Linked DNA regions of Homo sapiens. The protein of the gene in region 1 interacts with the protein of each later gene in a pairwise test. Each region holds a gene or a part of one and is shown on either strand. Other genes may lie near its edges.

Region 1 (3,500 bases):
CCACCCAGGCAGGGACCCCATCTGGTTCTGTTCACTGTTGAGTCCTCCACAAAACACATAGCAGGTGCTCAGTCAGGTTGTTTGTTTGGGTGATTAGGCTACCTCTGGCCTTGCGACATGTGCAACCTGGTTTTGAAAAAGACTGAGCATGTGGCTTTCTATTTCTATGGAAAATTGTGTGAAAAGGCTTATAGCATGTGGAATTGAGGCTGGACTTGCAGGTGGACTTCCTGGCAGCAAAGATGTTCTGATCCTGGAACTACATTCTTTCTTTCTGCAGTTTCTCAGATAAAGTAGCAGAGGCCCTGACTAGATATCTTAACTCTCTACCTGCTGGCAGTACTTGAAAATGCACAAAACACTTCCACGCCCATTATTCCATTTAGACCTCACATCACACAGGGAGACAGCTAGTCTTGTACCTGTTGAACAGATGAGGGAAAATGAGGCCCAGGAAGATGAAAGGATGGCAGTAGGCAGTGGCTGGACTGGAACCCAGATTCTGTGGTTGCGAGCTCAGCCTTCCTCCCATCCTCAACCCATTGCTGGACTTCATTTAGCCACAGGGGTCTGGCATGAGACAGGTCAGTTTCCCATGTGCTTACAGGCCAGTAAGCTTTGACCTCAAGTGTGCACTGTGAGCTGTGTGCTGCTGTAGCCACTTTGCTGCTGTGACTTCCTCTATCCTCCACTGCTGTCCAGGTGGGTGTTATATCCCCAGTCCACAGGTGAGGACACTGACATGCCCAGGGTCACACAGCTTGAGACAAGAGCTCACTGTCTCCCCTGTCTCCACAGTCTTGTCCTGCTCAGAGATTTCTGGCCTTAGCTTCTCCATCCTCCACCTCCTCCCCCACTTCCGCCCTTTCTTGGCTCAGAGAGCAGACATCTGCCCTCAGCTAGCACAGTCCCTGGCTCCCCATAAGGCTTTCTCCAAGTTTCTGCTCACCCACATCCTCCCTCCACAGCCCCCCACCACACACACACAGACTCAGGTGTGCCCTAAGCATGTTGGCAGCAGTACTTTTGGCAACACTTTGAAAGCAGCCCTCCTTGGGGCTGGAGATCGTTGGGGATAGTCTCCCTCCTGAACAGAGCTATTGAGGGTGAGCATCTCTGCACCCTCGGCCCTGGCACCAGGCCTGGCTCTGAGCACATAGATCCTGAAGATGTGTTTGTTGAATGAATGAATGATGTCTCCCCTGAGCCTGAGGTTTGGTTCAAACACCAGACCCAGGCTTGTTTCCTGGCCCTGCTCAGTTGCCTCTGGAAGTCCTTTCTGGTGTGAGAATGTGTCCATTGTCCTTCTCCATTCCATGGACCACAGTGGCATCACAGCTGGCATCTGGAGGAAGGGCCAACACTGCAAGGTGATGGGAAGACCAAGGGGACTTCGTGTCCCCTCTATGTTCTCCTTGGAGAGGGGACTGTCCTAGATGGGTGATGGGGATTTGGGAAGGTAAAGAAAGAAGGAAGGAGGGAGGAAAGGAAGGAAAAAGGTTGAGAAGGGAGGGAGGAAGACAGGAAGGAAGGAAGGAAGGAAGGAAGAAAGAAAGAAAGAAAGAAAGAAAGAAAGAAAGAAAGAAAGAAAGAAAGAAAGAAAGAAGGAGAGGGAGGGAGGGAGGGAGGGAGGAGCAAGCATTCACCGAGCAGCTACTATGTGCCAAACCCTGTGCCAGACATGTTCACACATAACATCATACTCAACTATCCCAGAAATGCCTGTTTGGGAGATAATATTCTCCCCCTTTACAGATGAGTAAAGAGGCTTGGAGAGATTGTGTGACTTGCCTGAGTGAGGGGCAGAGCCAGATTCACACCCAGGCATTGATTTGCACATCTCTTCCCAAATCTGAGTTTCTCCCATTGGTAGCTTGAAATAGACCATTACTGGAGTATTCACACAATGGAAATCGGCAAACTATACATTGGGGCCTCCCTCACCCGAGAATTGGTTGTTACACACTTGCCAGCACATCCCTGGGTATGCCCATCCTTCCTAATCCCTCCCTGTCTCTGTGGGGCAGCCACCTGCGGTTAATGTGCTTTGGTTTCCATCTGCAATGGGCTCCTGTTGTCCACCACTTCCTAACAAAGTATCCTTGGGCAAGACACTCGCTGTCTGAGTCATAGTTTCCCTGTCTTTTAAAAATGGAGGGTGAGTGAGATACAGCAATAACACATGAGAGCTTTTGGCATGTAACTGGCCTCTCCCTTCCTCCTGATGGGGCCAGCAGGCCATGGAGACTCTGAGGAGAGTGGGGTCACTGTTTCTTCTCCCTCTGCTGGAGCTGCTTTGGGCGAGAAGTCCACGATCCAGTCACTTCCATTAATTAAGCAGCTGCCCCAGGCCTGATTCTGGACTGACAGAGACCTCTCGGGGAGTTTCAGGTTGTGGGCAATCCCACATTCATTGAGAACAATTAAAAATCACATGTAATCAAATGGCCAATACAGGGCTTGAACCAAGCTTATGTCTTTGGGGATTAAAGGGAGTGGCCCAGGAAGGCTCTGAAGGATTGAAACAATCTTGCCAGGTCAGGAGTGGTTTCCAGGCAGGAGAAACAGCACATGCAAAGGGCTGGGGAAGAGAGGGGAATGCCATCTGGGCAAGTGAGGGTTGGAGCTATGAGGCTCCTGGCCTTGCTTAAGTGCAGGTCCTGGTTGAGAAGCTGGGGAGGAGGATGGAGGAGTTGGCAGAGACCTGCCTGCTAGGAAAGCGGTCTGGATTTGAGCCCATGGGCTGAGGGGAATGGTTTAAAAGAGTGGAGTGGCATTCCCAGAGCAGGGCTCTAGGAAGATTAATTTGGCTTTTCTGGGCCACCTGAAGCTGGAAGCTCTTTTGAACCTCCACTGGGTTATAAATGGTTGCTCTGGGTTGCCCAAAGAAACGATGGACTCCAGAAAGAAATGCCATCGTTTGGAGATGGCCCACTTCTCCCAGCACATCCTGACCCAGTGAGGAGGGAAAGCCAGGCCCTTGCCCAGGCCCTACCAAGATTGCACAGCCTTGAATGAGACTGCCCCAGCCTGAGTGTGTACCTTGGGCTTGACCCAAGAGTGAAGGGAGGAGGAGCGCGGTCCTGGGGAGAAGCTTCTAGATCTCCAATGGGCATGGGCTTTGTAGTCTAACCAGCTTTCAGATTCCACCTCCACCACTTGTCCAATTTGTGGACTCAAGTAACCTCTTCATTATTTTACCCTTGGTTTCTTCAACCGCACTTGTCACTCTTCATGGTGGCCTCGTCTGGTGGGGGCTGCTGGGAAGCGTGAATGGATAATACCAGGAGGCCATATGCACAGTGGCTAGCATACAGCAGGTGTTTGAAAAGTGGTTGCTCCCTTGATGATGTTTGGCTCCCCACCATGTGGTAGGAGCACCCTCCAGGTTTGAAGGGAAAGAAGTGTTTATAACCCTTGATTCCCAGGAGGAGAGGATGCATGGCAGGTTTCCCCATGTGGATCACTGGAAGAACCTTTGGGTTTGGAATTACAGAGCA
Region 2 (3,500 bases), on another chromosome or scaffold:
TTGAGGCGGAGTCTCAGTCTGTCACCCAGGTTGGAGTGTGGTGGCGTGATCTTGGCTCACTGCAACCTCCGCCTCCCGGGTTCAAGCAATTCTCCTGCCTCAGCCTCCCAAGTAGCTGGGATTACAGGTGCCCACCGCCACACCAGGCTAATTTTTTGTATTTTTAGTAGAGACGGGGTTTCACCATGTTGTCCAGGCTGGTCTCAAATTCCTGACCTCGTGATCCGCCTGACTCGGCCTCCCAAAGTGCTGGGATTACAGGCGTGAGCCACCACACCCACCCAGATTGTTCTACTTCTAGACCTCGCTACAATGCTGACAGTTCCATGATAGAGTGAATAAAGATACGTTAGGCTGGGCGCGGTGGCTCACACCTGGAATCCCAGCACTTTGGGAGGCCGAGGTGGGTGGATCACCTGAGCTCAGGAGTTCACCATCACCCTGGGCAACATGACGGAAATACTGTCTCTACTAAAAATACAAAAATTAGCTGGGCGTGGTGGCGCACACCTGTAATCCCAGCTACTCAGAAGGCTGAGACAGGAGAATTGCTTGAGCCAGGGAGCTGAAGGCTGCAGCATGCGGAGATCACGCCACTGTACCCCAGCCTGGGCAATAGAGCAAGATTCTGTCTCAAAAAAACAAAAAAGGAGGGGAGGCCAGGTGCGGTGGCTCACGCCTGTAATCCCAGCACTTTGGGAGGCCGAGGTGGGCGGATCACCTGAGGTCGGGAGTTTGAGACTAGCCCGGCTAACATGGTGAAACCCCGTCTCTACTAAAAAATACAATTAGCCAAGTGTGGTGGCGGGTGCCTGTAGTCCCAGCTACTCGGGAGGCTGAGGCAGGAGAATGGCATGAACCTGGGAGGCGGAGCTTGCAGTGAGCGGAGATCGCGCCACTGGACTCCAGCCTGGGCAACAGAGCGAGACTCCGTCTCAAAAAAAAGAAAAAGGTATTTTAGATACTAACTTCATGGGACCAGCCAATGTGCACATCTACAAAAGTGCAACCCTGGAGATCTTCAGTTCTCCCTTCAAGCCCCATGAGAGAATCAGATGTTTAATTCCCACAGATCATTCAATGCACAATCACTGCGTGCCTACTGTGTGCCAGGCTCCAGCGCGCTGAGATGGACGGGTGCCCATCCAGGACCGGGGAACAGCCCAGAAGCCGCGTGCAACCCCTGGCCTCCTCCCCAGCACAAACGCCGACCCCTGCGCGACGGTCCAGACACTGGGGCCACCACCAAGGCCTGCTCCCAGCCTCCTCTCTGCCATGTCTCAGCTCACCCTGCACCCCCGCCAGGGACCAGGCCCAAGCCCAGGCCACTTGCTCTCCTCACAGCTGGCAAGGCCCGGCCCCTCTCTGCTCATCGGTGAACTCCAGACTTTATCCCAGCACCCCCAGTTCGTCCCGACATCCCCCCACCTTTTTTTTTTTTTTGAGACGGAGTCTCGCCCTGTCACCCAGGCTGGAGTGCAGTGGCGCAATCTTGGCTCACTGCAATTTCTGCCTTCCGGATTCAAGCCATCCTCCTGCCTCAGACTCTGAGTAGCTGGGATTACAGGTGCGTGCCACCGCGCCCAGCTTATTTGTGTATTTTTAGTAGAGACGGGGTTTTGCCACGATGGCCAGGCTGGTCTCAAACCCCTGACCTCAGATGTCTGCCCATCTCGGCCTCCCGAAGTGCTGGGATGATAGGCGTGAGCCACTGCGCCCGGCCTCAGCTGCTGTTTTCTTTCTCTCTGCTGTGTGGCCTGTGGCTGTCAGCAACCCATCGGGTCCGTTTGTTCCCACAGCCCCAGGACAGATGTGTCTGAGTGACCTTGTTTCAATCATGGAAACTGAGGCACAGAGCACTTGGGACACACTGCTCTGCGGACCTCTCAGCCCCAGGTCCCGCCAACACATCCAAGCCAGTACTTGTCCCTCCTGAGCCTGTCCTGGCTTGTGATGCTCCAGCCAGAAGTCTGGGGACCCCCACCACAGCCCCCCACGCCCTCACCTGCCAAGCTGCCTCCTCTCCTGGCCACAGGAACTCGCTTCCTCCAAAGAGGACCTGCATCCTCTACCCCTCATTTCTGCCGTCCCCACCGAGCCCGCTGCTGTCTCCTGCCTGGAGTCTGCAGCTGCTACTCCCCAGCCTCGCTCCTGGGCCCATCCACGGCGCGTTCCACCCTCAATGCGGATCTGGTCACACTGGGCCACAGGGCCTCCCTCACTCCTCCTGCTCCGGCCTTGCCATGGCTCCCACCTGCCCAGCCCCTCTGGGCTCTGGGCCTTCCATCCCTGAGCCTGGGGCACTGCACTCTCCATCAACATCACTTGCTCAGGGGGTCGTTCTGGACCAGGTCAGTGCCCCCTCTCCATTTTCAACCCTCCTGAAATGCTAAGGAAACACAGATGACCTTTCAACAAGGCAGGCTTCAACTGCACAGGTCCACTCATATGTGAATTTTTTCAATAAAGGCTGCCCCAACGGTGCCGGCCTCTCCTGCCTCCCCTTCCACCTCTGCCACCCCGGAGACAGACCCACCCTCCTGCTCCTGCTCCTCAGCCCTCAATATGAACACAAGGACACAGGCCTTCATCGTGGCCACCTCCACTGTGTGAACAGCAAACAGGATTTCTCCTTTTATTTTTTTTCCTTTTTTTTTTGAGACAGAGTCTTGCTCTGTCGCCCAGGCTGGAGTGCAGTAGCGCAACCTCGGCTCACTGCAACCTCCGCCTCCCGGGTTCAAGTGATTCTCCTGCCTCAGCCTCCCAAGTAGCTGGGACTACAGTTGTGCACCACCACACCCGGCTAATTTTTTGTATTTTTAGTAGAGACGGTGTTTCACCACGTTGGCCAGGATGGTCTCAAACTCCTGACCTCATGATTCGCCCGCCTCGGCCTCCCAAAGTGCTGGGATTACAGGCGTGAGCCACCGCGCCCAGCCTGTCCTTTATTTTTTTTGAGATGGTGTGTCACTGTGTCGCCTGGGCTGGAGTGCAATGGCGCAATCTCGGTTCCCTGCAACCTCCACCTCCTGGGTTCACGAGATTCTCCTGCCTCAGCCTCCTGAGTAGCTGGGATTACAGGTGTGCGCCACCACGCCCGGCTAATTTTTGTATTTTTGTAGAGACAGGGTTTCACCGTGTTGACCAGGCTGGTCTCGATCTCCCGACCTCGTGATCTGCCCGCCTCGGCCTCCCAAAGTGCTGGGATTCCAGGCGTGCGCCCCCGCACCCGGCCCCTTAGACTTTTCTGAATGTATTTTCTGTTCTCCAGCCTGTTATTGTGAGAACAGGAGGCTGGTGTGCATTGACCAAGTGTCCTCACAAGGCCTCCGGTCAGCGAGAAGCCATTCCTAGTTAAGTTCGTGGGAGTCAAAAGTTGTACTTGGATTTGAGCTGAGTGGGGGTCCACGCCCCTAACCCCGCATGTCGAGGGTCCGCTGTCCCAGGCCCGCCCACCTTACCTTGCTGCTATCTCCCGCTGGGCCTCATTGCCCTCTCCT
Region 3 (3,500 bases), on another chromosome or scaffold:
AAACAGTCACTGGAAAGGTATGTGCTTTCTACAGGACCACAAGACTGCATTTTTTTTGCCTCCTTCTGAGACAGTGCTACGCTAGGGAGAAAAATCATCCCAAAGAATACAGGAAATATAAGACATCCAAAAAGAAAGTGAGTGCTCAGCTTTCAAATTAAAAAAACAAAACTAAAGACAAAAGCATAAACAGGTTACAATCAAACACAGTTGAAGAGAAAGCTTACGACGGGATAATGTTGCCATCAGAAGGAGAAAGGGGTATATATTATTTCCCTAGTATTTGGAACACACAAATTGAGCCTCTCAGAGCAAAACTGCCTTTGTTCCAATTAGGCCACATGGCAAGTAAAATCAAATTTGCCATTACAAATTTGGATAATCAAAGAGTGCAGGCCATGGAATAAAAGGGAACACCAGGAAGACCACACAAGCATAGAAGCATAGACTCTGCTCTTCCTTTATCCTCTAACTGGCAGTGCATGCAAAAACTCCACAAGAATGGAAGCTCCAAATGTGAGACAAACCCATAAACCAATTCTCCATCCTCTTGGTAACCAGCCCAACAAATGCCAGTGAGAGAACAGAGGAAAGGAGGGATCAGGTGAAGGATGAGAGGGAAGTGCCCCATGCCTCATGCCAGCCTAGGCAAGCCTAGAGAATCGGCATCACCTCTTACCTCTGGTCAATCCTCTCCATCTTCTGGTGTGATCTCTGTCTCTTTATGGACCACTACTTTGGTCACTGACATGTCAGGGTGCTGCTCTTTGGCCTCTTTAATTGCCTGAGCCAGCGCCTATCCCCGGGAAATCACAGAAGGGCAGAAACAAAAAGGAGGTGGAACATGCATGATCAGTGGTGAGGTGGAGACTTATGAGCTAGATCTATATCCACAATTTACAAATGAGGTACAATGATTACAAAAGGAATCATAAATCATATATTGGAAAGTTAATTCGGAATTTTCTTCGGAATACATGCTGGACTAGAGGAATAGCATTGAAACTGTAGGACCAACAGGTTTTTCTTTGTTTCTCTGCCAGGGTATTTACCGTCTCACACACACTACCTGGTCATGGTCAATGTCTGCATCCCCCGTGATGACTATTCGCTTCTCAATTCTTGTCTCTGAAATGCCCCCTTTCACAGTCTGCAAGACACGTAGAGAAGCTTTATGAATTTACTCACTGGGAGAAACCATCATGGTTCAGTAGGGGGAAATGGCCGAAGATGCTGACATCATTCACTCTTCGAGAATTGAAATTAGAGTTCTATGGCACTTATTTCACATTTTTAATTCCAGAGGTGAGGACGGAATGGAGGCCCTTGGGTCTGGATGGCCCATGTTTCTGGAACACTACCACATGCCAAGCACTGGAGTAAGCATTAAGCTTAGGATATCAGAATGTATATTCCTAAAGGGGAACTCGCACGTGAGGACAAGTGCATCGTAAATCTAGGGGCTGTAAAAGCTCCCCTTGCAGCTATCCCGGCGTCCTGAGCTTCAAGCCACCTTGTGCTTGTGCAGCCCAACCTGTGAGGAGTTCTGAACAAGCACCTTCCTCCAGCTCGCTCTCAAGGAATCCTCTTCTCGGTTCTCACTCCACTTACTTTGGTGATGTGCGTAGTGGTGGTGGTACTGGTGGTTTCAGATGTGATCGTCTGTGCACTCATCAGCACGCCTGGCTCCAGATCTGTGCCTGGATCGACCTAAAGCAGCAGAGGCATAGACCCCTCATCCAGGTGCTCACATCTGCTCTTCAGAAGTTGGCTACGTTATTTAAGGCATTACGACAATTTCACTATCTCCTATTATGCAATCATTATGCTCTTCAGAGTCTGAGCGCTGCTCCCAAGAATAAGTACTAAGTGCAACCACAGGTAACTGTCATTAAAAAAACTAAGGTTTCAGAAATGTGAGTGGTGGATGGGTGAGTGAATATTTTTCTTTCTCTGTGGCTAGGGAAACAGGTTTCTGAGCCTTTTTCTACACTTCAAGACACATAAAGACTTGGTTAAGTCATCTGCTGCTCCCTGATCACTAATAAAATGACCATTATTGCATCACTTTTAATAGAAATGGTCTGGCTGCTGGATCCTCTAAGTCTCATGAATTAAATATCGTGCAGTTCTATGTAAACACACTAGGCCATAGAGGGGTGAAATAAGCAGCCAGGGCTCTGGTCTTCACAGAATATCTCACCTGTGATGATTCATATGTGATGGTTTTGGTTTCGGTGTGAACTACTGGCACTTCCTTCGTGGAAATTTCTAGCTTTACTCCTCCCGGTGAAACACTGCCAAAACTGATGGTTTCCGTCTTCACCGTTGAGGACTGTGCCAAAGGGGAGTAAGCAGAGTGGCTGTTATAGTTTGCATGAACACATTGTTTTCTTCCTTTTCCTCTCTTGGTGGTTATAAGCACAGGTTAGTATGCTATAAATGTTTATGTAGAGAGTAAGCTGGGGAATGAGGCATACAACATGCACATGTCAGTCTCCTGGACTCTCATAGCACTTTTATATGAAATGCTCCAAGTAAAGCAAAACATTTTGAAGGCAATAAAAAAAAGTTTTCTATTTAATAACTTCTTAGAAAGAAGAAACTAATAATGAGACATTAACTCCCCAAATACTTCAGGAATCTCAATAAAAGAGGATAAAGAATAAAGTTCTGGCATTTAGGACCCGGGTAAACATGGTTTTGGTGCTTCTGGAAAAGTGCACTGATAAGAAATAAATGTATCACATTTTCTAATATCTTGGCCAACTTTGCATTTCCCAATTTTACTGCCAATTATAATAATTTCAGTGAGAGTAGAAACCATTTCCTGGTGCCATATTATTAATAATTAAGAGATATGTTTGCATGTGACACCAAAGCTGGAAATCAGTGTGGAGACTCCTACTAGGTATGAAAGAAGGAAATGAGAGGAGAAATACACTATACATGGGAGAGGCAGAAAATTAAACTTAGCTCCACCTTTATGCTGATCTAAATTTCCAGGCATCCTATATCAGTTTTATTTTAGTGATAAAAGTAACATTTACTACTAGTTACCTCAAAATGAGGTTTTTGTTCCAAAGTTTCTGAAATGTGGATGGCTGCACTCTGCTCCTCTTGTCGCTCACGGGAAGCAGCGGCTGTCTCTTCCTGTTCCAGGACAGCTTTAGCGACCTCCTCCCCTCCTTCCTCTTTAGCCCCCTCCGTCAAGGCAGAGCCCTCTTTCCCTTTAATGCCTGTGAATGCGGGCTGTGCTGCAGCATCCCCGCTGTCTCCCGCCGAGTAAGAAGCATCCCCACTCGCGTGCACCACACGCCGCTCCTCCACCAACACGGTCTCCTGCACCACCTTCTCAGTGCTAAGCGGCAGGTGGTGCACGGTGGGTTCCGTCTCTATTCCACTGGACTCCGTCTTGGTTTCCATTTTCTGCATGGGAAGAGATTGTGGCATCAGTGTGACCATCCATAAACCAAAGGTCAGAAAATAACTAAAGCTGC
Region 4 (3,390 bases), on another chromosome or scaffold:
TGTTTAATTTTTTTGAGACAGGATTTCCCTCTGTCACCCAGGCTGAAATGCAGTCACTGCAGCCTCGACCTCCTGTGCTCAATCAATCCTCCCATCTTAGCCTCCCAAGTAGCTGGAACTACAGGCACAAGCTCCCATGCCAGGCTAGCTTTTTAAAAAAAATTTTATAGAAATGGGATCTCACTATGTTGCCCAGGCTGGTCTCAAACACTGAAGCTCAAGAGATCCTCCCACCTTGGCCTCCCAAAGTGTTGGAATCATAGACATGAGCTACCACACCCAGCCAAGGCCAGTATTTACAGACAAGCAAGAGGGCAGGTTTTTTCACCAGGATACCAAGAATCTAGTTTCATAGTAACATATGTTTGGTTCTTTGTGAAGAATTTCCTAAAGAATACAGTTGTGATTATCTTGACTGGGAACGGGATGGGAAATACAGAGCCTAAAGGCAAAATATGCTCCTTTTAGTGTCTAGATTAAACTTTGGCTATAAATGTATTAGGATGTCTATTTTGTCCAAAACAAGAAAAATTAGCTGAATAAATTATTTGATCTTAATTTTATTGTAATAACATTGAAGGGTGGTGGGATGCAGCATGGAAGAGATGGGAATACACAGCGTAAGAGGATGGAATCCTGTTGTAAATTGAGCCTATTTGTTTAGATAAAACACTGGGAGCCAATTTTACTTTCCAAGCCAAATTCCTTCCCTCAGTGTGCTCACAGTCTAGTTGGACATACACTCAAGCAACTAGAAACCAACTTAATACATGCAATAACTAAAGTATATGTAAAGTATTGTGGGACTCCAGAAGAAGAAATTGTTAATTATACTTGAGAAAGTTAATGGGGTTCCAGAGGAGGTGAAATCTGCCCTGAGTCTTGGGAAAATGATTATGCATCCACAGGAGTTTTCAATAAAAGACATTCCCAAGAGTCTGATTGGAAGACACACCATAAAGTATACCAGTGACTTCTAGAAGAGTAGAAGTCAGAGCTGGAGAGGAAGGGTAATGGTCTGTCTGGGCAAAGTGATCCCAGTGGCCATGACATTGGAACTCTGACATCATAGCAATGTTTATGTATCTAACACTGCTCCTTTGGTTGACACGTGAAAAGCTCCATCAAATAAACTGTTTATGTTCAATTACAGTTTAGGGTTGGGTACAACTGCTATTTCAATTTCCTATTACTTCTCAGTCTCCTCTAATTTGGTGTCCCTGAGCAGTAATTTTCTAACATAACTCATGTCAAGTTCATTATATTACTTCCACAATCAATGGTCACATTTTAGTCCTCATCTTATCAAACCTCTCAGCAGCATTTGTCATCCCCTTCTTGAAACACTTATTCTCATGAGTTCTTTGTCATGTAGAATAACCCCAATAAGTTCTTAGATGGACTGGACCCCTGTTACAAAAGGCAGATTAACAAGAAAAAAAAGGAAACAGAAGTTTATTAACATGTACATTTCATATATACATGACAGACACCCAGAGAATGAGCAGTTCTCAAAAAGGTGGCTTAGAATTCCAGCTTATATAGCATCTTCAACAAAGAACAATAAATTTTTAAAGAAGTGTAAGACAAAGGAAAAGACCTTTAAGGACTTTGAGTCTCTAATGGGTAGCTACTTGGGGGAAGGCAAATGAATGGCAGATAAAGGCTAATTTGTAAAGCAGTACCATTTCCAGGCCAATAAGAGTCCAAAGTTATCTTCAGTGGTTAACCTTTGTTCTCCCTGGTGGTGGGAGGCAGAGGAGGGAGGTGGAAGTAGGATAACTTTTGTCTTTGTAAATTTATGGTTTTTTAGGCAAATACAGGGAGGGCAGAAGACCTCTCCTATATCTGCTTCTTTTATTATTATCATGATTATTATTTTTTAAATTTGAGATAGAGCCTTGCTCTGTTGCCCAAGCTGGAGTGCAGTGGCGAGATATCAGCTCACTGCAGTCTCTGCCTCCTAGGTCCAAGTAATTCTCGTGCCTCAGCCTCCTGAGTAGCTGGGACTACAGGCACATGCCACCATGCCTGGCTAATTTTTTTTTTTTTTTTTTTTTTTGTATTTTAGTAGAGATGGTGTTCCATCATGTTGCCCAGGCTGGTCTCGAACTCCTGAGCTCAGGCAATCTGTCCACTTTAGCCTCCCAAAATGCTAAGATTACAGGCATGAGCCCACTGCACCCAGCCTGTATCTGCTTCTTTTAACTTGCCTTCAGCTCAACAATCCTTCTTATTTTGGGACAGCATATTCTGGCCCCCACCATCAAAACATTCTCCTGACCTTTCTCTCTGACTGTTCTTTGACAGTTTCCTTTGTCAGTCTCCTCATCTGTGTGTTGAAGCTTCCTTGGGTTTGGCCCTAGACTCTCTTCTCTATTTTCTCTTCACTCTCTCCTTTTGGGATCTCAGCCATATCCATAGATATAAATACCATATGAATAAGCTGATGAGATGCAGACTTATATTTTAAGCCCACATCTCTCTGTGCTCCAATCTCATGTATAACTGCCTATCTGGTATCCCCAGTTGGAAATCTCATGGGCATCCCAAACTGAAGAAATCTGAAATCAAACTCTTGATTCCTCGAATCTATTCCTTTCTAAATCTTTCCAGTTTCAGTAAATTACACCCCATTTACCCCATTTCTCAAGCCAGAAAGTTCAAAGCTAATTATTCATTTTTCTCTATTCTATTCTTCATTCTCCATTTATAATACATCATCAAGACCTGTCATTTCTGCCTCCTAAATATATCTTGACTCTGTCCTCTTCTCCCAATTTTCACTGCCACCACTCTTTCAGGACACCATCATCTCTTATATGAATTGCAGCAATAGTCTCCTTATTCAGTCTGCTTCCACTTTTGCTTCTCTCCAACCCTCCACACAGTAGCCAGAGTCATCTTTATTTCTTAATGTCTCTCTTTAAAAACTGATGTATAACAGCCAGGCGCGGTGGCTCACACATGTAATCCCAGCACTTTGGGAGGCCGAGACAGGCAGATCTCGAGGTCAGGAGATTGAGACCATCCTGGCTAACACAGTGAAACCGCGTCTCTACTAAAAAATAGAAAAAACTTAGCCGGGCGTGGTGGTGGGCGCCTATAGTCCCAGCTACTCAGGAGGCTGAGGCAGGAGAATGGCATGAACCCGGGAAGTGGAGCTTGCAGTGAGCTGAGATCGTGCCACTGCAGTCCAGCCTGGGCAACAGAGCAAGACTCCATCTAAAAATAAAAAATTTAAAAAAAAATGAGGCATAACATACATATAGCAAACTCTTTTAAAAATATAAATCAGATTATATCACTCCTCTGCTTAAGCTTTCTACTGCCTTGAGAAAAAAAAAAAAAACTCCTTACCATGATACATAAGTCCCTTCAATAATCTGA

The links. The genes of interacting proteins can lie anywhere in the genome.
Region 2: the proteins of IGSF21 (region 1) and BTBD2 interact in a two-hybrid assay, tested with the Homo sapiens proteins (one large-scale study listed by BioGRID and IntAct).
Region 3: the proteins of IGSF21 (region 1) and EPB41L3 interact in a two-hybrid assay, tested with the Homo sapiens proteins (one large-scale study listed by IntAct).
Region 4: the proteins of IGSF21 (region 1) and PCDHA4 interact in a two-hybrid assay, tested with the Homo sapiens proteins (one large-scale study listed by BioGRID and IntAct).

The regions. Positions count from the first base shown.
Region 1 is NC_000001.11:18,114,298-18,117,797, forward strand, and holds part of IGSF21 (immunoglobulin superfamily member 21 precursor), read left to right. Parts: intron 1-3,500. UniProt on the Homo sapiens protein: Involved in synaptic inhibition in the brain. Selectively regulates inhibitory presynaptic differentiation through interacting with presynaptic NRXN2.
Region 2 is NC_000019.10:2,009,215-2,012,714, forward strand, and holds part of BTBD2 (BTB/POZ domain-containing protein 2), read right to left. Parts: intron 1-3,500.
Region 3 is NC_000018.10:5,393,998-5,397,497, forward strand, and holds part of EPB41L3 (band 4.1-like protein 3), read right to left. Parts: intron 3,430-3,500; coding exon 3,061-3,429; intron 2,336-3,060; coding exon 2,204-2,335; intron 1,711-2,203; coding exon 1,612-1,710; intron 1,151-1,611; coding exon 1,070-1,150; intron 797-1,069; coding exon 686-796; 3' UTR 680-685; intron 1-679. UniProt on the Homo sapiens protein: Tumor suppressor that inhibits cell proliferation and promotes apoptosis. Modulates the activity of protein arginine N-methyltransferases, including PRMT3 and PRMT5.
Region 4 is NC_000005.10:141,006,068-141,009,457, reverse strand, and holds part of PCDHA4 (protocadherin alpha-4 isoform 1 precursor), read right to left. Parts: intron 1-3,390. UniProt on the Homo sapiens protein: Calcium-dependent cell-adhesion protein involved in cells self-recognition and non-self discrimination. Thereby, it is involved in the establishment and maintenance of specific neuronal connections in the brain.